Linked DNA regions of Homo sapiens: all the other regions are linked to region 1. Evidence: fine-mapped expression QTL. A gene starts in region 1. Each other region holds a variant in brackets. All regions are shown on one strand. Distances are between the middles of the regions. Region 1 holds the start of NCEH1 (neutral cholesterol ester hydrolase 1). Region 2 overlaps NCEH1 (neutral cholesterol ester hydrolase 1). Region 3 overlaps NCEH1 (neutral cholesterol ester hydrolase 1).

Region 1 (10,856 bases):
GTCTCCCAAAGTGCTGGGGTTACAGGCATGAGCTACCATGCCTGGATTAAAAAAAGCTTTAAAATAATTTATTACTACATGTTCATTGTAGAAAATCTAGAATACACCAATACGAAAACTGAAGATACAACTTTATGGCCCAGAAGAAAAAAATCATGTTTTAAATTATATCTTTCTGCTTTTTCTATACAAACATAGATACATGTTTTGATATATAAATAGTGTATGATCTATTTTGTAGCCTTTTCCTGCTTAACACATGGTACAAATCTTTTGCAAGTCATTAAACATTTTACAACCTAAATTTTTTTAACTGCCTAGTATTCCCAAATATGAATTTACCATTATTTAATCTTTTACTGTTCTTACATTTTTCTTTTTTTTTTTTTTTTTTTGAGACGAAGTCTCACTGTAGCCCAGGCTAGAGTGCAGTGGCACCATCTCGGCTCACTGAAACCTCCACCTCCCTGGTTCAAGCGATTCTTCTGCCTCAGCCTCCCAAGTAGCTGGAATTACAGGCGCGCACCACTGCACCCGGCTAATTTTTTGTATTTTTTAGTAGAGACGGGGTTTCACCATGTTGGCCAGGCTGGTCTTGAACTCCTGACCTCAGGTAACCCGCCCGCCTCGACCTCCCACAGTGCTAGGATTACAGGCATGAGCCACCACACCCGACCTTCATTCGTTTAAATGGTGCTGCAAATAAAAGAAAAAAAGATTGCTCGATTTTACTTCACGTTTATTATAAGTGGCAGTGCTTTTAGACAAGTTCAACAAGTTTTTGTTTTTTTTCTTTGTCTTACGGTGCTGATGAACAAGTTTTTTAATCCTGTAAAATGTTTCCATCTTTATAGCTAGAGGTTTGCCTATATCCATCATTACTTACCATAAATTCCATCTAGAGGGATTACGGGGTCAAAAAATAAACACACTTATAAGGCTTTGATGGATATTGCCAAACTGTTCTCCAAAAACGTGGTTCTAACATACATTTTCTCCAGCAGTGTACACTTAGTATTTTAACCTGCACTGAGATTACCATTTAAAAAAAAAAATCTTTGTCTGCATAGCATTTGGAAATCAGCCTTCAGGACTTCCCCAAACTCTCTTCTTTTGTTCCTCTAGTCTCCTGCTGCCTGATCATCTAAATTACACCTCTGCCCTTCTCAGACCTACTTTTGTTTGTGCTTTTCCACTGCTCAAGTCTTATGGTGGCTTTGCTATAACACAGAAATTTGCCTAGCTAGTATTTTATCCCCTTAGGGCCAAAGTGTCAACTAATCTGATAAACTAATCCATGCTAATGTAAAAGGGCTCATTTCCAGCAACACGTATGCAATATAACACGCAGTTTAAGGAAAATATATTGTCTACAACAGCAATGCCTTTTATCTTATAGAGCAGTGGTTCTCAAGTTTTGCTGCAATGAAGATCATCTGGGGAACTTTTCGTTTTTTATTTTTATTATTATTATTTTTTTGAGACGGAGTCTCACACTGTTGCCCAGGCTGGAGTGCAGTGGCCTGATCTCGGCCCACTGCAAGCTCCACCTCCCGGGTTCACGCCATTCTCCTGCCTCAGCCTCCCGAGTAGCCGGGACTACAGGAGCCTGCCACCACGCCCAGCTAATTTTTTTGTATTTTTAGTAGAGACGAGGTTTCACCGTATTAGCCAGGATGGTCTTGATCTCCTGACCTCGTGATCCGCCCGCCTCGGCCTCCCAAAGTGCTGGGATTACAGGCGTGAGCCACCGCGCCCGGCTGGAACTTTTCTTAAACACTGCTAAGAACGTTCATCTCCCAGAGATTCTAAGTAAGTTTGGTATGTGGTGTAACCTGGGCATCAAGTGTTTTGTTTTGGTTTGGTTTGTTTTAAACAGTTCTTAGGTGATTCTGACATAGCATCTGTGTTTGAGAGGAGTCAGAGAGATCCTAAGTAGCTGCTTCTTAAGGAATATGGGGAACCCCAAGGAAAAAAAGCACAATGAACATAATCTCAATAGTCTGACTCACTGCACAAGATAAAGGACATAAAAAATGCTAAAGCATAAAGTATTTGCCAATGACAACAGAATAAACTAACATTCACATTTCTTAATGGTAGGCAGCTGATGCTGTCTTAGGAAATAGGCTGAGCTTAATCTCTCAAACAGCTTAAATTGCTTTTGTAGTTGAGCCAATCAACTCAAACTAAAATTATCTGAGTAACGAGGTTGACACCATGCAATTTATTTATTTATATATTTTTTTGAGACAGAGTTTCACTCTTGTTGCCCAGGCTGGAGTGCAGTGGCACAATCTCGACTCAACGCAACCTCCGCCTCCCAGGTTCAAGCGATTCTCCTGCCTCAGCCTCCCAAGTAGCTGGGACTACAGGCACCTGCCACCAGCCCTGGCTAATTTTTTGTATTTTTAGTAGAAAGAGGTTTCACTATGTTGGCCAGGCTGCTGGTCTCGAACTCCTGACCTCGTGATCCACCCGCCTCGGCCTCCCAAAGTGCTGGGATTACAGCGTGAGCCACCGCCCCAGGCCATGACACCAGGTAATTTAGTAGTAGCACTCCAGGTTTCAATCACATAAATTACTTCCAGTTTACATTTATTTTATTGCTTCAAAAAAGGTAAGCATTCTTATAGATGTTCCCACAATCCACAATGGACCCTTGGGGACAACTAGAAGACTCACTACAAGTACCAGGCACTTAAATACATTACTAAACCTTATAGCAAACCTACAAGGTAGTTTTTTGCCCTATTTTACAGGGAAAACTCAGGAAGATTTGAGGTGACACTGGAAAATTGCTTTATTGGGTAGAATATGTTTCCATCTGATCATAATGATCTTTCTGATATTTCACAATTTAGAGGAGAAGTGATAAGAGCCATTTTTCTGCAAATCCACTCCTGAGCCACAGTGTCAGGTGAGAACACTGGTTACCTCATCTATTGCTGACTTCAGGTTACACCCACTATCATTCCCAAGCACCACCTGAGGGTATACTCTGTGGAGGACCTTACACAGCCTTGTCCTTAATGGGCTGGCAAGCCTAGCTGGGAAAGAAAAGCTTTTCTCCAAACCTAGCTTGTCCGAGATTAACTTATGATGGAGAAGACTTCTTTGGTGACCTGAAAACTAAGAATAATCTCTGCAGCCAACACAGCAGTTTGATCTTTTTCCTGTTTTCCTCTGTTTAAGTTATTGTAGTAGACCATTAACCCACCCAGGTAAACATCACTGTTCCTCAATCTTTGAAGGGTATTACTTTCAAATTACATAATTTCATGGGGGAGGAGAGGGAATGCAAGGCTTCCTACAACAAGACTGACTTTCTTGACACCAGTGCTAAAGAAGGGGATGATCATTTTCACCATGTCAACATTATAGGAAGCAAGAGGAAAAGAAGGGGGGCAGGGGTCTATAGCTTCATAGACCTTTCCTAAGAGACAAAAGGGGCTTTGGAGGTGAGAATGTGGCTGAATTCAGGAAAAGCAAATCCACGCTAGGAATGTGCTGCAATATCCTAGTAAGGGGACTTTTCATAGGATAAAGCCCCACAGATTATGTAATCCTACACATAATGAGTGGACAGGGAACAGGAACATAAACCCTCTGGGAAAATCATGACTTTTTTAAAATCAGCTTTCTCAGGTTGAAATGATTTTTTTTCTCTTTCTCTAGTTGTCATTTCTGAAAGAAAGAGTTTATAAAAATATTCTGAGATTAAAGCCCAAGGTTGTGGGGAGGGAGGAGGCTTGGTTTTGGAGAAGGTTAGAGTTTAGATAGAGCAGGCTGCTCAGAAATACTGTCCAATCAGAGGGCTCAGCCTTGGCTGCAGACTGTAGTTTAGATTTTAGATTCTCTGACACTAAAAATAATGCCTCTTACCATGGAATAAACCAGAGACAGTTATATTTTCCTGTGTATGGAAGGAATGAACACACGCCCATGATACAGTGGAGAGAAATGTTACCCTCCCAGGTTAAGGCAGGTAACCTCGCTCAGGAAAAGGTTATCTGACAGCCAAGGACATAAAATAAATGCTGCAGGGCAAGCAGAAAACATGCATCATGCAAACCAGGGCTGCCGCCTCCTCACCTCCTTTCAGCCAGCCCAGCCTCCCAGTCCTCTTTCTTGGGCTGAGCTGAGATCTGCCTCGGGTGAAACGAGAGATCCCTATGGTTCCTCAAGTGCTTGGATGGAGAGCCCTGCCTGCTGTCTCCGGGAACGGAGCGCTCCACAGCCTGGGGACATTGCGAGACTGCCCTTGCCTGCTTCTGCTTCTAAGGTGGCTGCATTCCCAGGAACCAGAGCCTGCTTTTCCCGAGCTCTCCTAAAAATATTTATCCTCTGCCGGTCCCTATGGGAGAACGACAGTGTGAAGAAGGGTGGTTTATAAACTGCTTAAGGATTTGCCTTTTGACGTTGCAAACCAAGGAAGAGGAAGATATTTAGGACAGACGAAGGTTTAAACAGTTGTCAAATTCTATTCAAGCACTTCTTCCCCGTCACAAACGCAGACGGGGAAATGCAGATCTAGCCCGCTGCTAGCAAGGAGGCGAATGCGATACCCTGAAAATTCCCGACTGGACCACCTCAAAAAGCGACAGCCTCAATGCATTAGGAAAAACCTGCGTTTTCGTGGAACCCGGCGGAGGAATTTTGTATCCCCTTCAAATATTGCGTAAGAGGAGGAAGAGAGAAGCAGCGCTGGGCTGCACCTCACCACTTGCTGTGCACCCCGGAAAGTGGCGTCCAGCAGCATCAGCTTCCAGGGGTCGGACACGGAGCCAGGCAGCGGGATGTAGACGTAATAGGCGGCCAGCGCCACCAGGGCGGTGAGCAGGACACAGGACGACCTCATCTTGCCCTGGCTCGGCTCGCCAGCGGGCTGGCAAAGAGGAAAGGGCGATACCACCCGGAGACCTCCGGCAACTTTCTGCCCGCGGCAGCTGCTCATTCACGCGTTTCTTATAAGCCCAGGAGCCAATCAGAGGCTGCGTCGGGAGGAAGTTGGAGCGCGGACATGCCCCCTCTACGGTGTCCTTGCAAAGTGTGGCAGTCACTACAGGTTTGAGGAAGGCTCTGTCGCTGCTCTGGCCGTAGGCACAGCGGACTCTGGAGGACACTGGTTTGTACTGCATGCGTGTGAGGATGGCTTTCCTCCTGGAAGGTCTCAAACGGAAAATAGTTTCAGTGTGACGAGTCTCTGGACAAAGCAAGTGGGTCATTCTGACTCAGAGTACTGAGAAAGGATATAAAAATTCTGTTTTCTGGAGCCAGACTTGGAGTGGTTTGTAAGTTCTAGCTGATATATGGCAAAAGAAGATATTAAATTCTTCTGGCTCAAGCAATGAAAGGCCAGTAGTACATCTAGCACCCAAGTCTTGGTTTCTAAATCCTATGCTCCAATAAGAGGAACCACGGCTTTTTGACACAACCTCTGGAGAAAAGGCTGATACCAGGGCTGGGGCTGTAAAGTACAAGATGAACCTGTTGTGCCAGAGATGCGGAAGTGCTCAAAAAATGATAGGAACTGGTCAAAGGTCCACAGCTGCCAGCTTGAAGGGTCTCCCAGTGGCTGAAGCTGGGATAATTTTACCATCAATATAAATCATCATAATGGATAACCCATTGATTAAAATAAAACTCAACAATCTATATTAATATAAATAAATGAGGAAAGAAGAAAGGCTTTTCTTAAAATAGAATGCCAGCTAGTATCCATAGAAAATCATAAATGAATGCTAAAACTAGAGGGTAAAAATTTGACACAGAATTTTGGTCCTTCATCAGAAGATCTCTCCACAAATTACTACAAAGGGAAAAAATAATAACTTTTTATTGGAGAAACGTGTGGATATCACCTGAAAAATTCTTTCAGTGAGTCAATGGTAGCAGAAATACACTTAAACCCAGATTTCTTGTTAATGATTGGGGGTGAGGAGGGGTGGGTGAGTACTGAATGGGAGAGAGAAAACTTCACTAGCAAAATTTCAACCAGAAATCCAGAAGGAAAACAGTTAGAAGACCTGTTTCAAGAAAGTGGTAGGATGACAACTCCAAACTTATTGATGAAGGTCTTAAAACACCTAGTATATATAATTATGCATCTTAAGATGGTAATTTTAATTTAATCAAATTAATAGAAGTGAAATAACCATAAATTTGGTTCTGATAATGAGATTTTTAGGAAACAGTTGGCTTCTTCTTCAACATTGAAGGAAAACTGATAAGAAGGGCACACTTTCATGGTATTTCAAGCAAGTTCTCTCTCTCTTTTTTTTTTGTTTTGTTTGTTTTTGGTGTTTGTTTTTTGTTTTTTTTGAGACGGAGTCTTGCTCTTTTCGCCCAGGCTAGAGTGCAATGGCACGATCTCAGCTCACTGCAACCTCCACCTCCTGGGTTCAAGCAATTCTCTTGCCTCAGCCTCCTCAGTAGGTGGGATTACAGGTGCCCACCACCACACCTGGCTGATTTTTGTATTTTTAGTAGAGATGGGGTTTCACCATGCTGGCCAGGCTGGTCTCAAACTCCTGACCTTGTGATCTGCCCACCTCAGTCTCCCAAAGTGCTGGGATTACAGGCATGATCCACGGCACCTGGCCTCTCTCTCTCTCTCTCTCTCTCTCTCTCTCTCTCTCTCTCTCTCTCTCTGTCTTTTAAGTTACTGGTTAAACTCATAACTCTAAACAGATAGGAATGTTTATGTTTATGTTTGTGTGTGAGTATATGTGTAGAAAATTAGAAGCTATTCTTTTTTTTTTTGAGATAGAGCATCGCTCTTGTCACCCAGGCTGGAGTGCAATGGTGCAATCTTGGCTCACTGCAACCTCTGCCTCCCGGGTTCAAGCCATTCTGCCTCAGCCTCCCGAGTAGCTGGGATTTCAGATGCCTGCCACTAAGCCCAGCTAATTTTGTATTTTTAGTAGAGACAGGGTTTCACCGTGTTGGCCAGGCTGGTCTTGAACTCCTGACTTCAGGTGATCCACCTGCCTCAGCCTCCAAAAGTGCTGGGATTACAGGTGTGAACTACCACGCCCAGCCAGAAGCTAATCTTTATGGGTGATTAGGAATAATCCTGGAGATATAAACCAAGCTGACTACTGGATTTAGTTACATTACTTGCTTTCAGGAAATCTGCAAAATAAATCCAAGTTTTACCTTGTCGACAATACTTTTCTCTTAGATTTTGACTATATGTTCATAAAAACATAGATCTTAGAGCTAATGACAAAACCAAACCGAACCAAAAACAAACAAGCAAACAAATCCAAAAATCCCCACACCTAACTCAGCCTTCCCTCTTCCACCAGCAGTTAACACACTCGGTGTTATAGATGAGCCTCTTGAGGATTAGCGCAGCCAAATGGCTTACTCATATTCCTCTAGTTTGTAAGTGATAGTAGCAATATTTATTTCTGCCTCTCAGTGAAGTGTGGCTTCCCTTAAGCAGTACACTAAGAGATAGAAACTAAGAAAGAACAAAGAAACTGTAGTAATTCTCAGATCAGAAATCTGAGAGCCTCTGTAGATCTGAGAGTTTTTTAAAATGAGACTAATTTGAGATAAGTATAAACACCTTCATCACTTGTTTTCAATACTTCATTCATTCAACAAACATACCTGGCCTACACTGGGAAATAAAGAAGTTGTGGCAGGCAGGCTGTAAGGTTTCGACTCTTTGATTTTATATGCTTGGAGGGTGGTGGGGAGGGGTTCAGGGGAGGATGTAAGCATGATACAGAAGGAAGAGCCAAACAATAAACAAACAAAAATTAATAAGCAACATGCATTAATTTGCCTTGCTATGAGGTAATTCTGTGGTAAGCACTTTGAATATATTAACTAATTTAGCTTCATAACGATTCTACGAAATAGGTACCATTGTTACTCTAAAAACAGGCACTGAAAGATGAAGTGCTTTGCCCAAGCCATCCAGCTGGTATGTGAGCCCAGAGTCTGAGCCTAGTGCTCATGTGCTTTACCACTCAGCTCTACTGCTAAGTGGTTAAAAATGAAAATGGCCGGGCGTGGTGGCTCACGCCTGTAATCCCAGCACTTTGGGAGGCCAAGGTGGGTGGATCACCTGAGGTTGGGAGTTGGAGACCAGCCTGGCCAACATGGGGAAACCCCGTCTCTATGAAAAATACAAAAATTAGCTGGGTGTGGTGGCACGTGCCTGTAATCCCAGCTACTCGGGAGGCTGAGGCAGGAGAATTGCTTGAACCCGGGAGGTGGAGGTTGCAGTGAGCCGAGATTCCACCATTGCACTCTAGCCTGGGCAACAAGAGTAAAACTCCGTCTCAGAAAAAAAAAAAGAGAGAGAGAGAAAACAGAACAGGGTGTCTGGGAGCTGCTTTAAATTGGGTGGGAAAGGGGACCTCTTTAAGGAGATGCCATTTGAGCTGACATCTGCATGACAGGAGAAGACTGCCATGCAGGGTTGTGGAGGTGGAGGGAACAGGTGCAGAGGCTCTAAGATGCTAACCCGGTCAATGAACACTAACAGCTAGTGAGGCAGAAGTACTGTGGGAAAGGTGGTGGAACAGGCTCAGCCACAGAGGTAGTGTGGGTGCAGAAGAGCAGATCATTTAGGACCATGTAGGCCATGTTAAGGAGTTTGAATATTCTGGTACAATGGGAAGCAATTGGAGGTTTTGTAACAGGAAAGTGACATGATCTGATCTATTCATATATTTAAAAAGGAGCACTACAGCTGCCATGTGGAGAAGACCTGTCAGGTGGCTTTTGCAGTAGTCCAGATGAGATATGATGGTGGCCCGGAGCTGCAGTTTAGTTTAGCAATGGAATCAAGGGGACAGATTTTGGGTATATTTTAGAGATAGGGGAGATAAGACATACTCATAAATTATGAACGATGATAACAAGAGTCAAAATACTCTGTTTCTAAGGCAATAAGGTGTAGTTTGAGTGCAGAAATTGACTTTTCCGTTTTTATGGAATTGTCTTAGATTAATTTTTATTAACATCTAAATATATGACATAGCAATATCATTGCTTAACAAAATCTTTATTTTTATCACTTGAAATAATTTTCCCAAAATTCCATCTATTACACCATGTGAAGTGGTTTTCTTCATCCACGACAAGCAGAACTTTAGTTCAACATTTATTGAGTTTTGCTATCTGTAAGGCACTGTGGTAGATGCTGTCGTGATGAAAATATAGTTCCTTTCCTTGTGAAAAAGTGTTCTAGTTAGAGAGAAAGTCAGATAAGTAGATAGTTTCAAATATGTACACAGCTCAGAAATGTAACACAGAAGAAGTCAAAATTCTGTTCCAGAAAAATGAGGAATAAGAAATACTCAAAAATGGCGATGACTGAGCAAGTTCTGCAGGCTGAAAAGGAGTGTGTGTACAGGCAGACAATAAGTGAGACCATCCCAAGCAGAAAGAAGAGATTATATGGGAGTTCTGAAGTGTGATGGGAGCAGAGAACTACACATAGTTCAATATTTCTGGAGCATCAGATGCAGGGAGGTGGAGTGTAATGAGAGTATAACCTGAAGAGTTAGGGATCACACAATGAGGGCCTGCTACGAGTGTGTTATGTCACTGAAGAGTTTGAACATTATCCTTTAGGCAGTGGAGAGACACTGAAGGGTTTGCATGAGATCGCTCCGGTAGCGATGTACAGGGTATGTGTGTGGGGAGAGAACAGATGAAGTAGTTGGGAGGATGTTGTTTTTTTGTTTGTTTGTTTTTGTTTTGCTTTTTGGTTTTTTTTGGAGATGGAGTCTCACTCTGTCATCCAGATTGGAGTGCAGTGGCGTGATCTCGGCTCACTGCAACCTCTGCCTCCCAGGTTCAAGCAATTCTCCTGCCTCAGCCTCCCAAGTAGCTAGGACTACAGGTGCACGCTGCCATGCCTGGCTAATTTTGTCATTGCTGTATTTTAGTAGAGATGGGGTTTTACTGTGTTGCCCAGGCTGGTCTTGAACTCCTGAGCTCAGGCAATCCAACCACCTCAGCCTCCCAAAGTGCTAGGATTACAGGCATGAGCCACTGCACCTGGTCAAGGATGTTGCTTTTAAGGTGTGCAAGATAGAGATGGTATTAGCATAAACTTGTATCAGGTGATGAAAATGAGAATGAAGAGTCAAAAGATACCTGAGAGGTAGAATCAAGAAGACTTGTAAAGGGAGAATAAAGGAGTCAAGATGAATTTCCGGGTCACTCGCTGAAGCAGATGGGAGAATGGTGTTGCCTTTTCAGAGATAAAGAATGGTAAAGGGTAAAAGATTTAAGGGGAAATGATAAATTTAGTTTGGAAGAGTTAGGTTTGAGGTATCTATAAAACATTTAAGTAGAGACAGTACGTAGGCTCCCAGACACAAGCTGGAGATGTAAATGTGAATCTTCATCCTGTAACTGAAGCCATGACAATGAATGAGACAGAAGCTGTGTGTGTGTGTGTGTGTGTGTGTGTGTGTGTCCGCGCCCGCGTGATGGGGAAGGGTCTAGGGTTGGGCAGAAGAAAAGCAGGCCAAAGGGTGTTGGCATTTACTGTTTAGGAGAAGAAGAAGGAGAAGTTGACAAGAGGCCAAGAGGAAGTGGTCAGAGAGGGGTCTGTCTGAACTAGAGGCACGGAATAGTGGTGAATACTGAAAGGCAAGGAAATCATTGAGAAGTTAAATTGGTGGAATTTCCTAATTGGATTCTTGAAAGGGAGAGGGAGAGGATGGAGCCAGCAATGACTTCAAAGTTTCTGGTTTGGGCAATGTCATTAACTGGCATAAGAAATACCAGAGGCAAAGCAGGTCTGGGGATAAAATAATGAGTTGAGGCCAGGCACAGTGGCTCAACGCCTGTAATCCCAGCACTTTGGGAAGCCG
Region 2 (10,856 bases), 37 kb before region 1:
TGTGGGCAGGGCAACACGCCAGCTACACTAAATGAGATCTGCCTAGGAAGCAGTGGAAAAAAATTATGTGAACTCCTAAGGGTTATTCCTTTAAACTCTAAGATGCTATGGCTGAACTTTTTTTAGAGTAATTGTATTTGCCTATTTCATGTTATGAGAGGAATTTGCCCTAAGGAAGTAGAACTATTTTAGCTCAGAATGGTAATATTTCTTCTAAAACTTATTAGGAAACTAGAAGGAATGTTTTGTGGATGTAGTTTTCCTAAAGGTCATGCAGAACTTCCAGGTATTAACAGATTTTGAAAGATGAATAATAGCCATTTTAGTGGTTATTTATTTTTTTGACATGGAGTCACCCAGGCTGGAGGGCAGTGGCACAATCTCGGCTCACTGCAACCTCCGCCTCCTGGGTTCAAGTGATTCTCCTGCTTCAGCCTCCTGAGTAGCTGGGATTACAGGCACCTGCCACCACACCCAACTAATTTTTGTATTTTTAGTAGAGATGGGGTTTCGCCATCTTGGCCAGGCTAGTCTTGATCTCCTGACCTCACGTGATCCACCTGCCTTGGCCTCCCAAAGGGCTGGGATTACAGGTGTGAGCCACTGTGTCCAGCTCATATCATTTTCAAAGGACTTGTGTAGCATACAGAATGGTTTCTAAATAATATCATCCATAATATTAGTTGATAGTCCATAATTCTAAATCCAGCATTTTTCAAAGCATTACCAATGAACAGGAACTTTTAAGATAAAGCTAAATATAGAAAAATAAGAAAAGTGAATTACTATAAATTACTATTCATATTATAATTTGAAATTTTGTTAATATTGTCTAAGACAAATCATCCTTTTGGGATAGTTTTTTTCACACTGTTCAAACTACCCTTCATCCTATAACGGCAGACATGACCTAATGATTCTCATTTTTAATCAACAGTGTTGTCAGACATTTCAATGATTCTGAACATAATATTATGACATTCAGGGCCAGAGAGCAAGCATTCTCTACTTGCTCTCAGCTGAAAGCAAAGAGGTTCTCAAGAGCTGTCAGCCTTTCTCCTTTATGTTCTGAAAGCCTCCTAAACTTGTCAGTTTACTTCCATTACACTTTTATTGAAAACAATGAAAGAAAAAAGTTACTACAGCGTTTATACTTTTAAAGTGAATGTCTTTTCTAATAAGGTAGAAATATCACAGAACCATTGAATGTTGGAATCAGAAGCATGTTTGGGATATCATCAAGTACAATAGCCACATCCTGACTATGAGGAAAGCTGGAGGGGCTAAAGGACCTCTCAAAGCTACACATGTAGAGTCAGCAGCAGAGCAGAGCTTAAAGCAGCAAGGGACTCTTACGGCCATCAGTAATCACACTCTTGCTTAACATGCAAATGAATAAAGCTATTTTTATAAAATCCTCCCCATATATTGGCAGTAACTCTAAATTCTAGTCATTTTTTAACCATTAGAGAATAACATTAGAAGCATCAGTAGTTAATGGTAATAATAATTTCCGTTTTATATGGGGTTTTATGGTTCACAAATATATTTTATAAAATAAGTTTCTAATATTTCATTTTCTTATATTGAGGGCTTTTAAAAGAACCAAAAACCTATTTTATGAAAATTTCATATTTAAAATTATAGTTGAGAATAATGGAAGATTTTTCCCATTATCTTTGCTCTCCTAGATAGTAACCAGATAAATGACTTCCCAGAGAAATGCATAGTCATATAAGATAAAACGTCTTTTTCTCTCCATTTTACTCAGAGTTTGATGATGAACTATGACTGGATATTGAAATAATCATTCTTTTATCCTTTGTAGTAAGGCTTACTTTGTCCAGTGGCAACATGATCAGACAAGCAGCTCTCAGATGACATGTGACAATATTAAATTCAATCTTAGCAAGCAGCTTCTCAATTTCACACTTGTGGTAGCTGGATTAACCCAATTATTTTTTGGAGGTTAAGGGAAACTTTTACATTTGCAGAATACCATCCTTCAGAAACCAGAAAGTAGGATTTCGTTAACTCAAAGAATTTTATGGAGATGGAAAGATCAGTTGGTATTTATTAAATTTTAGCACAGAATCAGATGGAGGGTTTAGGAAGAAGTAGATATGATTACCTAATAATTCACTTTGAGTTCTTCACTTTGATCCTCAAAAATGTGTGAAACTTGGGACTTTTACTTAGCATACCTTTCGGGTAAAATATTTTCATTGTACCAGTTCCAGGCTCTTGGTTCTAGCACAAAACCGCTGCTACACACACATACACATACACACACACACACACACACACATATATAGATATATATACAAATATATATATATGCTACCTATATATACACCTGCTACATGTGTGTATATATATTTACACATGCACATATCAGGTGTGTATAAATGTAGCATGTATATATACATACACACATGCACACAGGCACACACATACTTGTTACATATATAATTACACATGCACATATCAGGTGTATATAAATGTAGCATGTATATATACATACACACATGCACACAGGCACACACATACTTGTTACATATAGTCAGGTGCTGCATGATGACATTTTGCTCAAGAACAGATCACATATATGAGGGTGGTTCCATAGATTATGATGGAGCTGGAAAACTCTTATAACCTAGTGGCATTGTTGTCATTGTGACATTGTAGTGCAATTACTTAATTTTTAAAACAAATTTAGTGTAACCTAAGTGTACAGTATTTATAAGGCCTACAGTAATGCATAGTAATGTCCTAGGCCTTCACATTTGCTTACTACTCATTCACTGATTCACCCAGAGCAAATTCTACTCCTGCAAGCTCCACGGTAAGTGCCTTACACAGGGGTAGCATTTTTTAATCTTTTGTATCATATTTTGCTGTACCTTTTCTATGTTTAGATATACAAATACTTACCATTACATTGTAATTGCCTACAGTGCTGAGTACCAAGTTTCACCAAGTATTAGATCTACAAATACTTACCACTGCATTATAATTGCCTACATGTTGAGTACCGTTTCACCAAGTTGGACAGGCTAGTTTCAAACGCCCGACCTCAGGTGATCTGCCTGCCTTAGCCTCCCAAAGTGCTGGAATTACAGTGAGAGCCACCGCACCTGGCCAGGAAGCCCTTTTTAATACGCGTTTTAGAAGGCCTATGGAAAACCAGGGCCAAACCTCTCAATTACTCTAAACTGTCTATAATAGACCAAAAGCCAGATGAGAATCCTGTGGCCTTTATAGAAAGGCTGATAGAGGCACTAATAGAACACTCTTCCTTTTATCCCCTGATTCAGTGGAGAGACAGCTCATCCTGAAGGACAGTTTTATTACACAGGCAGCTCCCAATATTAGAAGAAAACTACAGAAGCAAGCTATGGGACCAAATAGCACCTTAGAGAACCTCCTGAAGGGGGCCACTTCGGTCTTTTATAATAGGGACCAGGAGGAGGCCCAAAAGAAAGAGAGAAAGCTCAGGGGAAGGACAAAGGCTCTAGCAGCAGCTTTGCAGGCTGGCAAAGTCCAGGAGCCCCAAGATGCATCCATTAGTTGCTATCAGTGTGGCAGGCCAGGGTATTTTAAAGAGGAATGCCCAGGCAGCAAGACGAAGCCACCTCAACCCTGTCCATCCAGTGGCAAAAACCAGTGGAGACAGAACTGTCCCCAGATATGGAGGTCACTGGGTTCAGAGCCAGTCTCACAGATGGTCCCACAGGACTGATGGGTCCTGGGGCCCAAACCTCAGCTCCAGCAGCTCAAACTGCCATCATAGCATAGGAGCCCCAGGTGATACTGGACATTGAAGAAAAGGAAGCAGACCTCCTTCTAAACACTAGACCCAGTCTCTCTCTTTTCTCCTCTCTAAGCCAGGCCTCCTCTCTTCCTATAGCGCAACTATAAGGGGCATTTCAAGAAAAACTCTAATCCAATATTTTTCTCAACCTTAGTTGTGGTTAGGAGGACCTATTTACAAATGCTTCCAAGCCATTGTCATAGTAGCTCTACTAGTCAGAAAAGCCTCCTAGTTAACCCTAGGAAATAATTTAACTGTTTACACCCCACATAATGTGGCAGGATCACTGTCCTCTAGGGGGAGCTCTTAGCCGGCAAACAGCCAGTGAAGCAAGAGGTACATAAAGCAGGAGAGGCAGTAGTCACTCTCCCCAAACACAAGCGCTCAATTGGCTGAGCTAAGAGCTCTTACAAGAGCACCTAAATTAAGCAAGGGAAAGGTGGCTAACATTTATACTGACTCCAAGTATGCTTTCCTGATTTTCCATGCTCATGCTGCCATTTGAAAGGAAAGGCATTTTCTTAACACTAATATATCTCCTATAAAATATTACCAGGAAATTAGCAGGTTATCCTCAGTTTTTCTTTCATGAGAGACAGCAGGGATGTATTGTAGGGAACACTGAAAGGGAACAGATAAGGTAGCAGAAGGAAACAGATTAGCTGATCAGGCAGCCAAGTCAAAGGCAAGGAAGCCTCAAGGCACTAACACACTTTGAGCCCTTCTAATCTAGGAGGGCTCCATTTTAAAAGAAATTAAACCTCAGTATTCCTCTGCAGAAACAGAATAGGCCACTTCTCAGCCGCATACTTTTCAGCCCTCAGGACGGCGACAGTCAGGATGGCAAACTCTATTTGCCAGCCTGCAGCCGATGAAAGTCCTTAAAATCCTTCACCGAGCTTTTTACTTGGGAATGGATAAAACTTACCAATGTGTTCAGAGATTTCTTTTCAGGCAGAAAAGCTCTAAATTGGTTAAGCATGTAACCTCTCTAAGCTCACTTCCCACAAGAATTAACACAACCAGCAGAAGCCCAACCCCAGGAAATAAAACCTTTATTTAACCCAAGAAATGTGGTATTAATAGAACATCTTAAGTTGAAAATTATAAAAGATAAGTGAGTAGGCTGAGCACATTGGCTCACGCCTGTAATCCCAGCACTTTGGGAGGACGAGGCAGGCAGATCACGAGGTCAGGAGTTCAAGACCAGCCTGGCCAACATGGTGAAACCCTGTCTCTACTAAAGATACCAAAGAAAATTAGCCGGGTGTGGTGGCACGTGCCGTAATCCCAGCTACTCAGGAGGCTGAGGCAGAAGAATCGCTTGAACCCGGGAGGCGGAGGTTGCAGTGAGTGGAGATCGCGCCACTGCACTCCAGCCTCGGCGACTGGGAGAGACTCTGTCTCCAAAAAAAAAAAAAAAAAAAAAAAGTGAGGGCTACTCATCTTACTCAGTCCCACCTTTACCCCAACAGATACTTTTTTTCATTTCTATCCTTTCCTGTCAAAATTTGCTACCAAATAGTAGAACTTCTTTTTAACGC[AT/A]TATTTACAGGGAAATTTTAATTATACATGGGATTGCATTTGTAACTTTGTAAATCCCCAGAGGGAAATGTTATATCTTGGCAAGTAAAATTTTCAATGAAAATTATTTACTATGCCACTCTTGTGGAAATTGTTACAGTTACGCTACTATTCGCAATAGAACTATACACTGTGGCACCCACAATGTGGAATTCTGGTTGTAAAATTCTAATTGCCATAATATTTTGCCTGATTATCATCCTTATAACAGGATTAATTGCAGGAAAAATTTAGTCAAAGTTGTTTTACTTATAGCAGGAGTAATAGTTACGGATAAAAAGCAAACATAGAAGTTTTACTATCATTACGTTTAATAGGACTTTTTACTAAAGGTTGGTAATATAATGCACTCTAAGCTATGAAAAAAAGGTTATAAAGAAATACATTTTATATAAGAAAGGATTTTGTGGCCAGGTGCGATGGCTCATGCCTATAATCCCGGCACCTTGGGAGGCCGAGGCGGGCGGATCACTTGAGATCAGGAGTTCGAGACCAGCCTGGCCAACATGGTGAAACCCCAGCTCTACCAAAAATATAAAAGCTAGCTGTGTGGTGCCTGTAATCCCAGCTACTCAGGGGAGGCTGAGACAGAAGAATTGCTTGAACGTGGGAGGTGGAGGCTGCAGTGAACTGAGATCACACCACTGCACTCCAGCCTGGGTGACAGAGCAAGATCCTGTCTCAAATAAATAAATAAATAAATAAATAAATAAATAAATAAATGATTTTGTGAGTTGATGGGTGCAGCAAACCAACATGGCTCATGTATACCTATGTAACAAACCTGCACATTGTGCACAAGTATAATTTTTAAAAAATTTTACAAAAAAAAAAAGGATTTTGTATGGTAAATACTTGTCATAAAAGGAAATGACTGGTTTTTTAAAGGAAGGATGTTTAGAATGAGTCAGAAAAATGTATGTTGTAAGAGAGTCTGTGAAAATCATGAAAAAATTTAATCATTAAAGGAAAGGAATTGTCAAAATTAATGCTAAAGTTACTTTAGACATCCAATAACGTATTTCTCTCAATCATACTGCAAGTTATAAAAATGGCCTAAGCCTAAAGTTATTCTCTAATGGCAAGTCAAGGGAGAAATGCATGCTGTTCTCAAGGAAAATGTTACTTTTATGTTAACGTTTCTGGTAATGTACAGCGACATCTAGTGTAGACAATCCAGTATTGCAATCCATTGGTGTAACTAATAGGTACCAAACTCTAAGTCAGTTATGGTCTACAGGACCCCCACTGATGGTGGTAATCTTAATGCTCTTATTCTAACACTATATTTTAAACCTTCTTGTAAAACGTATCTCTTTTCGCCTAGAAGCAATTAAACTCCAAATGGTACTGCAAGCAGAACCACACATGGACACGCCATTCTTCCAAGAATCCTTAAATCAACCTCAGGAGAAGGCCCAACTGCTGCTCCCCTGCATGCTCCTTTTCAGCAGGAAGTGGCCACAAAGAATCATCGTCCAACACCCCCTAACAGCAGTTAGGTTTGCTTCTCTTGAGGGGGGAAATAATACAGGTGTTACTTAAAAAAGTTTTTTTAGGCAGAGAGAGAGGCTAAAAGGAGTTCTTGGTAAGGCTTTTTCTGTTAATAAAAGCAAACCCCGAACCATTTCTTTTCTAACAGAAAAACCGCTTGAAGGGCCGGGCCAGGAAGCTTTGATACGCAAATGCCGCCCGTTAGAAATGGTCCACCCAATATGGCGACTCCTGCCTTCTTCTTGTCACCATGTGTGCCAAGTGTCATGGCTACCTCCAGATAATACCATGTGTTCAGAACATCATGGCGATCCGTATTTGCATATTAAAGAGCTAAGGTGGGAAATTTCGCCAGGTTTTTCACAGGCAATGTAAATAACATACCTGGTCAAACCAATCCCCTGGGCCCTATGCAAACCAGACACCACCTCCTCCAGCATCCCAATATAAGCAACCACTTTTCCTGCCACACACGGGGTTTCTCGTCGTTCGAATCCCCCCTCCCTTTGTCTCTGTACCGGGGAGCTGTTTTCTTCCTTGCTTCTCTCTTGCCTAATAAACTCTCCGCTCCTTAAAACTACTCCACACGTGTCTGTGTCATTTTATCTAAACTGGCGCGAGACCAAGGACCCTGGTGTTCCTTCAGTCATCGGAGCCATGTCATTTACACCTCTCTTGGTCCTATTCTTGTCTCACTCTCCTTTGCCTTCCATACACACAGGCACATAAAAATGAGACTTTTAAAAAATTAAGTTTATACTCACATCTCTGTTACCTCCCACAACAATAACTAGATCGTGAGCTCCTTGGGAAAAAGTCTGGGTCTCGGGGGCCAAATTTTTTTCCAGTGCCTCATGTACACGAGGTCATAAACAAATGCCCTTCCTGAGGCTACCCAAGCTGCTAAAAGCCTCCCTTGATTGCCAGGACAGCAGCATTTGTTTTCATTTGAGTGTTCCAAGTAGCAGCTGACTAAAAGCAGCACAGAAGAATTAAACTTCCAAACAAAACCTCCCATATTCCCTTCTTTGATATGACAGTTCAGAGCTTGTCCACTCATGCCCTGTGACTTCACAAATGTGTTACACAGGACACTCCAGAAGTTGGGTTAATCTTCTGCTTTTTACAAAGTGCAGGAAGTGGCAAATTAGACATCATCTTTGAAAAAACTGTGTCTTAAATGGCACATAAACACAAAAGATACAAGGGGAATGATGTTTATAGACATCTACTGATATCTGAAGAGCCAGATTCAGATGATAATAAATTAAGTACCCTTTTGTACACATTCACATGGTGATCATGACAAGTTATTGCCTACTATTTAAAATACATAATAATAAACCATGTACTCTTTCAAATGGACCTTTACAGTTTATGACCTTTTGAACTTTCACTCATCTGAATGTCACAAGGACTTGTGATAGGAACAGCAGGTATTACACTCGTATGCTCATTTGGGGCTTAGAGAAGTTAAATGCTTTGCTCAGGATCATAAAGCCCTAAGTGACAAAGCAAGCTGTTGGTGGGGGAGGGGCGGGGGGGCGGCTCACGCCTGTAATCCCGGCACTTTGGGAGGCCGAGGCGGGCGGATCACGAGGTCAGGAGATTGAGACCATCCTGGCTAACACAGCGAAACCCCGTCTCTACTAAAAATACAAAAAATTAGCCAGGCGTGGTGGTGGGCACCTGTAGTCCCAGCTACTTGAGAGGCTGAGGCAGGAGAATGGCGTGAACCCGGGAGGCGGAGCCTGCAGTGAGCTGAGATCGTGCCACTGCACTCCAGCCTGGGCGACAGAGCGAGACTCCATCTCAAAAAATAAAAATAAAAAGCAAGCACCAGAACTCTCAAAAGTTCGACTGATCCTGACCCACTGCTCTGAATATTATCAATCAGAGCTGTGATTATTTTAAACACTGTCATTATTTTAAACGGAAACCTCTCCTATTACACAGGTTTTGCTGCACTTAAGATGAAAAGGTTTAAAAATCAGGGTAGGGAGGGGAAGTAGGTCATGAAATGTATCCCAAACTCTACCCCACTGGCAGCACATTCTCTCTGCCAGCTGATCTGCTGGGCTGGTTAGCAGGAGTTTTGCCTACATAAACAGTGTCTGAGAAAATTAGCATCAGTACAAAAGCCCAAGCCTTTACAATAAGGACAATTTCTACAGCCAGTAGTTTCAAGTTAATGCAGCTCAGTCCCTCCTTGGCCTGAGGCATTACAAGACAGGATGGCCTGCCAGTTCCAGAGGCAAGAAGGAAGTCACTGGCTGTTGGGACAGAATCTGGGAAAACACACAATGGAGTGTTTAAATCTACACCAGGAGCAGCTTCTTGTTTTAACGGATCCAAGACGTTGGAACAAGTCACTCCTTCCAAACGTTTAGTCTATTGAAAGATCCACAATTACAACAAACTTGTTTAATGTCTAACAAAGTCTCAATCAAAATATCTATACAACAATTGAGATCTTCCATATAATGATCTTCCTGAGGAGAATTTACAGATAAAATACTCCACCACAAGGAAAAGGGTCCATATTTATTTTTTACCTACTCATTCAAACATTTAAAAAATTTTTTAAACTATATGTATTAAATATACCTTAAAGGGGCACAACTGCAGGCTTCCTACATGCATATATTGTGTAGTGGTGAAGTCTGTGCACCCATCATCCACATAGTGAACACTGTACCAAACAGGTCATTTTTCAACCCTCACCCCCGTTTGAAATGCTTGTTCCCTGGTGCCATAAAGAAATAGCACTTGAACATAAATTTAATTTACTCAGCAAGGCCATTTTTACTTCCTGCAGAAAGGGTACACTTGCCAGAAGTTTTGCCACAAGAGTACACCGAACAAAGGAGGCAGGGTCATTTATAACCTGACGCATCCACCCTACTGCTGTGTCCGCTTTCCATTGGCTGGAATGGGACCTCACATTCTGTATTTGTCCCGACTGGCTAGCAACTTAGAACTTTTAAAAAGAGGCACAGGTACAGGAGAACAAAGGAAGGAGGAAGGAAGGAGGAAGTAACTTGTGGAATGCTGAGAAAGGTAAAAACACCTTTAAATAAGGAAGAGGGACAGCTATGACCTAATGCTTGCTTGGACCACTATAAGCATGCCAGGGAAAATATTCAGGCTAAATTGTCGGCTCTAAGAACATGAAGTGTATTGATTTCTTTATTACAGCTAGCAGATATTTAAGAATGTTAGCACAGGTCTTTGAATAAATTTTGCTTTTAAGAGAAGTTACTATTTATTCCTAATTAGACGGGGAGGAAAGTCTTTGAAGAGGAACCTCTACTTTACTTTTTACACCCCCCACCCCCGACCTTTTATAGTCTCCAATGTCTATAATATTCCATTCTGTATGTACCGCACACCCATCGTTTAGCTCCCACTAATTCATTCAGCAAACATTTGAGTGTTGCCCACCAGACACCTAAACACGTACAGATAATACAGGGGTTATTAACACATTATTTTAGCCAGATAGTAAGGGTAAAGGTTCTCGGTGGAAATTTTCCTATAATAAGAAACAACCCCTGAATCATCTCTTTTATAACAGAAAAGGTGGCTTAAAGGGCCAGGCCAGCAAGCTTTGATATGCAAATGCCAGCCATTAGAAACTGGCTTCACTCAATATAGTGATTCCCGCCATCTTCTCCTTGTCACCACTTGTGCCAAGTGTGATGGCCGCCTCCAGATAACACCATGTGTTCAAACATCATAGTGAACCACCTTTGCATTTTACAGGGCTAAGGTGGGAGGGCCAGGTTTTTTGCAGGCTACGTGAATGACACACCTGGTCAAACCAATCTCCTGGGTTTTAAGAACGAATTCTTTTCTTATCTCTATTATTATCATTACTCAATCAAGTTGTCCAGTCCAGGGCTACTCAAAGGATGGTCCAAAAACTGGCAGCATCTGAATGCAAATTATTGGGCCCTAACTC
Region 3 (10,856 bases), 69 kb before region 1:
TGCTTCCAGTATCTGCCAATGTGAGGGGCACATAATCATCCATCCAATAAATCTTTTTTGAGTATTAACATACCTTCATTTTGCAAACGAAGAAACTAAGGCATACAAAAGTTACTTGATTTGCAAAAACTCAAAAACAGACCAAAATTAGGTAGGATAAAAACTAATTACCTAATTAAAAATTAATAACAGCCAATGAAGACTCAAGACTTTTGATTTCCATCTTATAATTAGCATACTTATTTTCACAAACTAATTTTTTCTAAGCTACTCTAAATAAAGACATTTATTTTCCACAGTCTAAAATCCAGCTAGTTGGGCTGAGAGCGGTGGCTCACACCTGTAATCCCAGCACTTTGGGAGGCTGAGGCAGGTGGATCACTTGAGATCAGGAATTCAAGACCAGCCTGGCCAACATGGTGAAACCCCATCTCTACTAAAAATACAAAAAAAGGGCCAGGTGCGGTGGCTTAGGTCTGTAATCCCAGCACTTTGGGAGGCAGAGGCAGTCAGATCACCTGAGGTCAGGAGTTCGAGACCAGCCTGACCAACATGGTGAAAACCCGTTTCTACTAAAAATACAAAAATTAGCCAGGCACGGTCGTGGGCGCCTGTAATCCCAACTACTCAGGAGGCTGAGGCAGGAAAATCACTTGAACCCAGGAGGCGGAGGTTGCAGTGAGCCGAGATGGTGCCACTGCACTCCAGCCTGGGTGACAGAGCAAGACTCCATCTCAAAAAAAAAATAGCCGGGCATGGTGGTATGCACCTGTAATCCCAGCTAGTTGGGAGGCTGAGGCCTGAGAATCACTTGAACCCAGGAAGTGGAAGTTGCAGTGAGCTGAGATCGAAAGAACAAGACCTGGGCGAAAGAGCAAGACCCTGTCTCAAAATAAAATCCTGCTAGGTAATTAAACATCTTGACATTCATTGTAGATAAAATCAAATGGACAAATGTTTGTGAAATACGTTGACAAGTAGTGAATGTGGATCTGGTCATTCCGGAATTACCACATTTTGAAACTAAATGCAATAAAAAAACTCCCTTAGTGGAGGCGGAGCTTGCAGTGAGCTGAGATCGCGCCACTGCACTCCAGCCTGGGCGACAGAACGAGACTCTGTCCAAAAAAAAAAAAAAAAAAAAAAAAAAAAAAATCCCTTAGCGTTTGCCATATAGCAGATAAAATAAATTTTCTAATTTCTTATTTTTCCATCTGGGGTGGTCAATTAATCATGCAAAATGCTTTTTTTTTCCAGTTGATTTTTCACTATGTATGAAAGCTGCTGCTATATAATCTATATAATTCCATTTGAGCAAAAAAGTAGAATTACGCAGTTTTGTCCACTAGATGACATCATTTCATATGAGTCTATTTACCCCTAGTTCTTGGGGTGGGGGGTGGGTCTCAATTTTTAATCTTCAGTATTACCAAGCTGAACTTTTAATTTTAATAAAAACAAATGTACTTCATGACTCAAGTTGTGAAAACAAAGGTTATTTCATTTCAGCAATATCCCACATATCACAATAAACTGTTTTCCTGGTTGCCCAGATGGTCAGAACATATCCACTAGCATCCATATGTCAAATAAGTTGAGTTTTTAGATGTTATTTCAGAAAAGGTCTGAGAGACTTTGATCAAAGGCAATTGGTAACCTAAAAAAAACATGCTACTGCTCAATCTTCTCAATTAATAATTGGCTTATATAATAGGATAAACATGCTTAAAAACAAACAGGTTATGATGCAAGAGTGTTCCTGGTGCCATAAAGATCCATGGCCTAACCCCTCCCCTCATCTGTTTTCATGCTGGAAACATTCTTCAGTTTTACTCAATAAAAATGGACACTTTTGGCCAGGCACGGTGGCTCACCAGCACCAGGCATGGTGTAATTCCAGCACCTGGGGAGGCCAAGGTGCGCGGATCACGAGGTCAGGAGATCGAGACCATCCTGGCCAACATGGTGAAACCCCATCTCTCCTAAAAATACAAAAATTGCTGGGTGTGGTGGCATGTGCTTGTAATCCCAGCTACTCGGGAGGCTGAGGCAGGAGAATCGCTTGAACCAGGGAGTTGGAGGTTGCAGTGAGCCGAGATCACGCCACTGCACTCCAGACTGGTGACAGAGTGAGGCTCCGTCTCAAAAAAAAAAAAAAAAAATGGAGACTTTGTAGACTGAAGAATATCCTGAAAGTAGATATTTATTAGGTTACCTGGCATAAGATGAACTTTCAAAGTAGCTTGAAATTCACCTAAGAAGTATATCAAAATTTTGTAATATCTAGACACAGAAAGCCAAGAATCAGGAGGAAATTCATGGGTGGTACAGCCAAATAAAGCATACATAAATATATCTGCTCTCTGCTGCTGGTGCTCAAAGCTATGTCCCTGCAAAGTAGTGAAAGAGGGTTCTGACATTCAATATTTAAAAACTGCAGATCTTAAAGCACCTGATACGTAAATATCAAAGATGTTATATCATATTAATATTATGGATGCATATATATTCCTCAATTTGCCCAACTCACTTCAGGGAGAGGATGACTCTGCAATGACAAGTGGATTACCTAGCTTTATCACTGCATGTAACTCCCATCAGAAGAACAAAATTTGGTGTAAATTCAGGCATGAGGTTTAATCAAATTAATGTGTACAGTCTATCAAAATGACCATATTCCTGCTGGGTGAGGTACCTTGCCAAATGTTCTACAGACGTATGTCACTCAAATCTCAAGCAAACTTCTGGGTTTAAGGATGAGAATGTGAGGTTGAAGGAAAATGTGTAACTTGTCTGTAACAGCTAGAAGTGGCAGAACTGGGATCTGAACTCACAACTGACTTCAAACCTATGCCCCCAAGCCCCGAATGACACCAATGTGCTAAGAGGGTTGAAATGCGCAATTCTTCCTCAAAATAACCTAACCTGGAAGCCATATGCACAACCTTCTGCTGTGGAAGGGACGCCAAGTTCTCTTCATATAGTACTACTTAGGTGAAAGATACATGCGGCATTCTGGAATAAAATTATACTCCTATCAGATTCAGCAGGAGAGAGGATAAGCCTCACTCCTTTTCCAGCTTTTTTACTTTTCACCATCACCCAAGAAAATCTCAATAGATTCATTTTGGGAACATAAAAGAGTTAATATTCCCCACTGTCTTAGGGGTATTTTTAGTAGGGGATATCCAAAACAAATCAATAATTAAATCCAGATTGTGCTCTCTGAGTGAGACAACTCCAGAGGGAGAATCTATTTATTCCACTAACAGAAGTTTCCTTTCTACTGTTGCATCACAAGGTCAAAAAAAAAGCAAAGCTTCCTTTCTTCCCTGCCCCCTTTATTTATTTATTTTATTTATTTATTTATTTTGAGACGGAGTCTCGCTCTGTCGCCCAGGCTGGAGTGCAGTGGCACAATCTCGGCTCACTGCAAGCTCTGCCTCCCAGGTTCACGCCATTCTCCTGCCTCAGCCTCCAGAGTAGCTGGAACTACAGGCGCCCGCCACCGCACCTGGCTAATTTTTTGTATTTTTAGTAGAGATGGGGTTTCACCGTGTTAGCCAGGATGGTCTCGATCTCCTGACCTCGTGATCCGCTCGCCTCAGCCTCCCAAAGTGCTGGGATTATAGGCATGAGCCACTGCGCCCGGCCCCCTGTCCCCTTTAAGAGACAGTCTTGCTCTGTCACCCAGGCTTGAGTGCAGTGACACCATCATAACTCACTGCAGCCTCAAATTCCTGGCCACAAGCAATCCTCTCACCTCTGCCTCCCTAAGTGCTGGAATTACGGGTGTGAGCCACTGCATCCCACCCAGAAGCTTCCTTTTCATTAAAAGAACATATAATAAAACTGTGCTCGAGGGGAAGGAATGTGGATGGATGACTGTTTCTCCAAAACTGCACCATTGCACTCCACCCTAGGCAACAGAGTGAGACTCTGTCTCAAAAATAAATAAATAAAAAATACATAAACTAGAGGTAAAAAAATACTCTATTATAGTTAAACTGCACTGAAATTTATAAATATAAGGCCTTTTATATTCTAGATTGTATAAATGAGGATACATCTGCAAATCTTAGATAAACACTGTAATGTATTTAACAAATACTTATTGTGCAATTAATATGTAAAAATAGTATAGCGTTGTAGAAGCTACTGAGTAGGAGACATAGCTTTTACGTAGGTTTTGTACTCAAGGACTTCACCTATCAGTCATTTGGTCTGTCCCCAGACCCTTGAGCCAGCATGAGTGACATGAATCATGGAGTCCCAACTCCTGGTGCTCATAAGAGGTGATTCCATTACCAAGGCTGCTGGAACCCCTGCCCACCAGCTTCCTCAGATAAAAACCTTCCCCAGTGCCATAATCCACATGAAAGAATAGCAAAGCCATGACGCCACTACCCACTCTAGAGGGCCTCAAGGCAAGGAGCTGCTGGCTCCAGACAGCCTGTCTTCTAGAAGGCGGAGCTCCAGAAGAACCAAGCGTCCACCATCCTCCTAAAGACTCTTGGAATCATCCACACTTACTTCTGTTTTCCTCAGTCGTCCCTCCGTCTGTCTTCTCTCACATTTCATTCCCTCACTGCTCTCTGCCTCGTCCCTCCCCTCCCAAGCCCTCTTACTACACCACTTTGGTCTTCCATGACAAATCCACTTTTTCTAATGAGGTTCTGCTCATTCTTAGGGGTTTCATCCAAACATCACTTTCTTTAAGACACCTTTTCTGATCCTTTAAACGAGGTAAGATCTTGCCTGTTAGATGTCTCTGTTACTACTTGCCCTTCTACTTCCCATCACTTATCACACTTTTAACATTACTTATTCAAGGTCTTTCTCTTCTAGATCATAAACTCTATGAGGGCAGGAATTAAGTCATTCTTACATTGT[T/G]ATGTCACCAGCATTTAACACGGTAACTAGCACAAAACAGGAATCCAGTAAATATTTATGGAATAAAAGAAAGAAGAAAGAAGCGAGCCACTGAGATCCCGCTCTGAACTGCTTTTTTTTTCTATTTTTTTGTTTTGTTTTGTTTTGAGATAGGGTCTCTCTCTGTCACCCAGGCTGGAGTGCAGTGGCGCAATCTCAGCTCACTGCAGCCTTGATCTCCTATGCTCAAGCAGTCTTTCCAACCCAGCCTCTTGAGTAGCTGGAACTACAGGCATGCACCACCATGCCTGGCTAATTGTTTTTTAACTTTTTGTAAGACAGGGTTTTGCCATATTGTCCAGGCTGGTTTTGAACTCCTGGACTCAAGTGATCCACCTGCCTCAGCCTCCCAACGTGTTGGGATTACAGGTGTGAGCCACTACACCAGGCCTGAACATCGTTTCCAAGAGAAACATCATGATCATATAATGTTGGCTGTACCTCAACTACAGCATAGGTTATAAAGTGCTCTTGGGTTAGCCTGAATCTTAACAAGGATTACTATCTTGCTATTTCTACAAAAAAAAAAAAAAAAAAAAAGAAAAAGAAAAAAAAGTACTGTGAGTTCCAAACATGCTGATAAATAAACGTGTAAGTTGTCCTTTTCATTCTATAGGCTAGATAGAGCAATAATCCTCCAGACTCAGCTAGTGCTTTTGAATATCTGAACTCCTCTTATATCAATTGTCTAAAATGATTCTCATGACAATTCTCTGCAGTCATTATCCCAACTCAGCATGCATTTACCTAGCATGCACACTCCAAGCCTTGTACTGGGTTCTGGAGATGCAAAGGAAGGAAGACGTGATTTCTGTTTCCAGGAGTTCACATTCTTTTGTTTTTGCTTTGTTTGTTTGTTTGTTTGTTTTTTGAGACAGAGTTTCGCTTTTGTTGCCCAGGCTGGAGTGCAATGGCTCAATCTCGGCTCACTGCAACCTCCGCCTCCCGGGTTCAAGTGATTCTCCTACCTCAGCCTCCCCAGTAGCTGGGATTACAGGCATGCACCACCATGCCAGGCTAATTTTGTATTTTTAGTAGAGATGGGGTTTCTCCATGTTGTTGATCAGGCTGGTCTCGAACTCCCGACCTCAGGTGATCCACCTGCCTCAGCCTCCCAAAGTGCTGGGATACAGTCATGAGCCACCGCGCCTGGCCTTTGCTTTGTTTTTTAAAAAATAGGGTCTCCCTGTGTTGCCTAGGCTGGACTCGAACTCCTGGGCTCAAGTAATCCTTGTACCTCAGCCTCTCAAGTAAGGCACACCACCATACCTCACTGTTTTCCCAGTAGCTCACATTCTAAACATACAGGAAGGGTTCTCAACCCCATTTTGCACATGAGTTTAAATGACCTGCTTGAGGTCACACAGTCATGAGTGATGGAACTTGACTGCCATATGCTCATGCCTCCCATCTGGACACCATGTTGTATAGATTAGGAACAATGCAAAGTTTAAATCAAAGCAGTCCCTTCTAAATTTTAGCCCTTTTCAAAAAAATCCTCTTAAATATATCTTATTCTTCTGTGTCTTATGATAAGCCTTGCAATACCCATTTTACTTGAGACAGATGCTGATAAGGGGAGAAGGGAATGGAGGAACGGTTTAGGGCATGTGGCCAAATAGTGATATTGAAGCCCGGAGGGTAGGCCCTGTGGTAAATGGAAAATCTGCACGGTGCCAACTGAAGCAAGCCCAGCTTCCCTCCTTTTCTCAGGCCTGCAAGGAGCTGGGGCTACACAAGAAACCAACTGAATGGCCCCTGAAGCTTGTTCCTCAACACCGAGCTGTAGGGCCTTGTCTCCTTAAACATCCCCTGTGCTTTCCTCTGGCCAGCTGCTCAGGCCAACTGCCCAAATCATTTCCTTGAAGGTTCCTGTATTACCAAACTGCACTGACAACCCTTGAGTAATCTGGGAGGCCTTGCTGAGAGTCCAGAAAGGTCCAGGTGCGGTGGCTGCTTCCTCAGCAGATTTGGCTCCAGCTGTCTGGACTCTAGGGCTTTTGGGTGACTGCAGGGCTTTTGGGTGACTGCAGGGCTTTTGGGTGACTCTAGGGCTTTTGAGTGACTCTAGGGCTTTGGGGTGACTCTAGGGCTTTGGGGTGACTCTAGGGCTTTTGAGTGACTCTAGGGCTTTTGAGTGACTCTAGGGCTTTGGGGTGACTCTAGGGCTTTTGGGTGACTCTAGGGCTTCTGTCAACAGGGTCAGAACTGCCTCAGTGACTCTGAGCAGCCCCTTTCAAGAGACTGCAGAAGAAAAGATCCACTCAAATCTGGAGTAGGAGCAAGGAGGTGGCGCACCATGAACAGGAGGATAGCTGACAGAGAGGCAGAGGGAAGAAGAGAACTGAATGAGCCTGGGGCAAGAAAAAGTGGTTGGCGTCATGGCCCTGCCACTCAGCATTATAAGCTCCCTTCAATAGTGGCTTGAAACTGGATCAAAAAGGTCCAGAGACCTCAGGAACTATCTGACTTATTCCCCTACCCCATCTATGCGATGAGCTAGCTATCTGGCCTTATGCACATCACTTAGCTTCTTGGGTCTCAATTTCCTCACTTATGAAAAAGATATCAAAATATCTTGGATGTTTTATATGAGAATTAAGGTGCTTCATTCATTCATTCCATAAATATTTACTGAATGCTCACCATATGCCAGGGATGTTTCCAGGCACTAATGATTCAGCAATAAACAAAACAAACAACAATCCTGAAATGTTTGCCTTTATAAAATTCATATTGTCTATTTCCACTTATTACAATAAACATAATAAGTCAAATATGTGGTTTGTCAGATATTGATGATAGCTTTGGAGAGAAATGAAACAGAGGAACGTGGGTTGCAATTTCACAAAGGCTTGTCAAAAAAAGGCTTGGCTGAGAGGATGGTATCTAAAAAAGACCTAAAGAAGAAGAGACACGTGTGCAAAAGCATTCGCACAATGCCTGGTACAAAAAAGATGGCGTGATTTTTGTGTTGTATTATTATTATCATCAAAATTATTATAATTATTATTCACATTCTTCTTAGTTGCCCAGAAAAGTGGCTTATACAGAACTGACAGAGACAACCCAAAATATTAATATTACTACTATTACTACTAACCACACCATTAAAATTTGTTGAACACGTATTTCTGTTCCCAAGGCACAAGTCATAGAACCTGACTCTAAGAGAGCAACTTTTTCAACTCTCAGCTGTAGAAGAGATTCTCTTAAAATCCTTACTACTTTTTAGATTTAAAAAGTTATATGTTGCAGGTAACTGATTGCATACTTCTCTAGGTTTTTAGTTAATCCTTTTTTCAGTTTTCAAAACTAACGGTGAAAAGGTAATTTGAAGTGTTATAAAGCTAGTTCAATAAATTTTGTTACATCAGAAATCATTTTTCTGATTATGCTGAGTGTGACTTTGGGCATATCTCTTTGCCAACTTGAGACCTTTATTTTTTACTTTATCACTTGTAAAACAAAGTAACCAGACTGTTATCTAGAATTCCTTTATAAGAAAAATTTTCTATGACTAGCATTAATTACTTACTCAATGGAAACAATGACAGCATTCAATTCCTCAGCCATTGCTGTACACAGCTCATCATAATACCTGATTTCTAAAAGACACAAAGGGAACAATCATTACAAAACAGGTCATTTAATACTGTCCACTCATAAATTCTGCTAAGTGTGAATTGTTTTTAGGCTTGGAGCTAATACTAAAAACAAATAATAAAAAGCAAATGTGAACAAATAATAGAGTTACATGTACACATGAAAAATTAAATCTGATTTCTAATAACATGCAACTACTATATAACAGGAAATGCATAGTTTAGTTTTGAATATATTACTATCTAAATATTTATTTCATAACGGACTATATGAAATGCACCAAATTAATCCTGATTTTATAGCTCTTCAAATGTATACATCTTTCTGGAAAAAAAATCACAGCAAATAAGCAGTCTCTTCCTTAGAATCATGCAATTTTAGGCTGGGAGTGGTGGCTCATGCCTGTAATCTCAGCACTTCAGGAGGCTAAGGAAGGAGATCATTTGAGGTCAGAAGTTTGAGACCAGCCTGAGCAACATAGCCAGATGCTGCCTCTATAAAAAAATTTTTTTTAATTAGCCAGGCATAGTGGTGCACGCCTGCAGTCCCAGTTGCTTGGGAGGCTGAGGAAGGGGGATTACTTGAGCCCAAGAGTTTGAGGTTACAATGAGCTGTGATAGAGCCACTGTACTCTGGCCTGGGTGACAGAGTGAGATCTTATGTCTAAAAATAATAATTTTAACAATTTTGCTCTTTTAACACTTCATTTGCTGCAGTTCAGTAAAGTGATCAATTTGAAGAATATGGTATTTTCTTTAAATGAACACGTAAAAAACTAGAATTTTAGGAAGTCTTAGCATTTCTTAGAGGATTCCAAAGGTCTGCAGTAACAGAACCAATTTAATATGTAAGAATTTAATTCTTAGTTACTCTCAGTAAATTAAGATCTATATTGTGCCAACTGAGAGCCAAACATTTCCTTATTTATAGGGTTTCCAAGGCAGTCTTAGAATCGGAAGCTTAAGAATTACATAGACACCTGTTACCTCCACCTGCTCAAGTTCTTCCTCAGGCAGAAGTGATCAGTCAAAATTATGCAGAAAAGGCCAGGCTGACTCTTGTAATCCATCCCATTCCTGGCACCCATACTTGCTGTCCTCCAGTACAATGTTTTTCCTGGCAAGCGTCCAATGCTACAGATTCAATCTCTTTTAAGGCAGAAACTCCTTCTTATTCATTTTTGTATCCCTACACCCGAGCACACCTTAGACTGACCAATGGTCCAGACTTGCCCACAACTGTTTGAGCTTTTGCACTGAAAGACCTGCAGCCCAGCAAACCCCTTGGTCTCGGGCAAACCTACATACTCATGAACAGCTATTGAAAATGTGAAAAAAAATCACTGAATAAAAGAATAAACAACGGATATGGAATTAAATAAGATTACTAGAAAAAGTCAAACCTTTTGACCTTTGTTGCTTTTAAAAAAAAATCACATAATGATAAAATAAAAAAAACAAGTTGCCATTGCTTTTAAACTAAGGGGATGCCAAAAGCTCTGGACTGAAGATGAGGAAGTAGCTCCATGATCATTTATTAGCAGAGACAAGACCCCGAATTCCGCCTTGGGAGGTTCTCTTCTGGGCGGCTCTGTTTGGCTGCCTGCCATTTTGAATGTGTTCTACTCATAAAAATCATCCAAATCTAAAGAAAATATTCTTGAACTTTGCAAGATTGTTTCCTTTGAATGGTTGCATATATTTTTACCTTTGCTTTCATAAGCAGATAAAATGTTAACATGTGTATTAAGGAATACCTGGTCTATTTCATAGAAATATATCTTCAAAACACAAGTTGGCAAAAGAAGCACAGATAATTCCCCATATGCGTGCCTGGTGAAACTTCACCTTGTTTTGGTGCAGAAAGCTGTATCAGCACTGCACAATAAGTTAGTCTGTGATTTAGATCATAGGAAATATTTTTACAACAGTCTACCTGAATTGACAAACAAACTAACAAGCAAAAAACCTTTACAAAGGATAACCATTTAATTTATCACCCAAACCAGGACCCTTTTGAGAGTGAAAAGGGGGCACTAGTCATAATTTTGCTGGGACAACAGGGGTAACTGGGACCATCCAGGGGAACCTAGATAAATGGTCCCCTTCTTTCCCACTAAGAAAGCCAAACTCAGTTACGCATCTCCCCCAAGGCCAACCACAACAACAAACCATCTGAAGGTGACCAGGACGCACTTGCACTTGCCAAGGCCCAGCCTCCTCCGTGGATATAAACGACGCTGCGTTTCAGTGGCTCTTCGGGCTTCGGAGGGCCTTCAAACACTCTGACTTCCACACCATCAAAGTCTGTGTCGGTCA

The links. PIP is the estimated chance that this variant, and not a neighbour inherited with it, causes the effect.
Region 2: its variant is fine-mapped to the expression of NCEH1 in whole blood (TOPMed, PIP 0.91).
Region 3: its variant is fine-mapped to the expression of NCEH1 in testis (GTEx, PIP 0.93).

What each region holds. Positions count from the first base shown.
Region 1 is chr3:172,706,124-172,716,979 of GRCh38, forward strand. It overlaps NCEH1 (neutral cholesterol ester hydrolase 1), which reads right to left and starts at 4,944. Exons shown (of 5, transcript NM_020792.6): 1 at 4,724-4,944. The coding sequence starts at 4,861. RefSeq lists enhancers at 4,396-5,595, 4,725-4,994, 4,916-5,210, 5,255-5,394.
Region 2 is chr3:172,669,222-172,680,077 of GRCh38, forward strand. The region is part of intron 1 of NCEH1 (neutral cholesterol ester hydrolase 1); the gene reads right to left. It overlaps LOC124909457 (a long non-coding RNA gene), which reads left to right. Exons shown (of 2, transcript XR_007096170.1): 2 at 6,726-7,472. Among named protein-coding and RNA genes, the nearest start is that of NCEH1, 36 kb to the right of the region's middle. RefSeq lists enhancers at 7,572-8,207, 8,208-8,843. The variant AT/A (reference allele first, on the strand shown) is at 5,359.
Region 3 is chr3:172,637,153-172,648,008 of GRCh38, forward strand. NCEH1 (neutral cholesterol ester hydrolase 1) reads right to left here. Exons shown (of 5, transcript NM_020792.6): 2 at 10,734-10,856; 3 at 8,471-8,540. Among named protein-coding and RNA genes, the nearest start is that of LINC02068, 47 kb to the left of the region's middle. The variant T/G (reference allele first, on the strand shown) is at 4,894.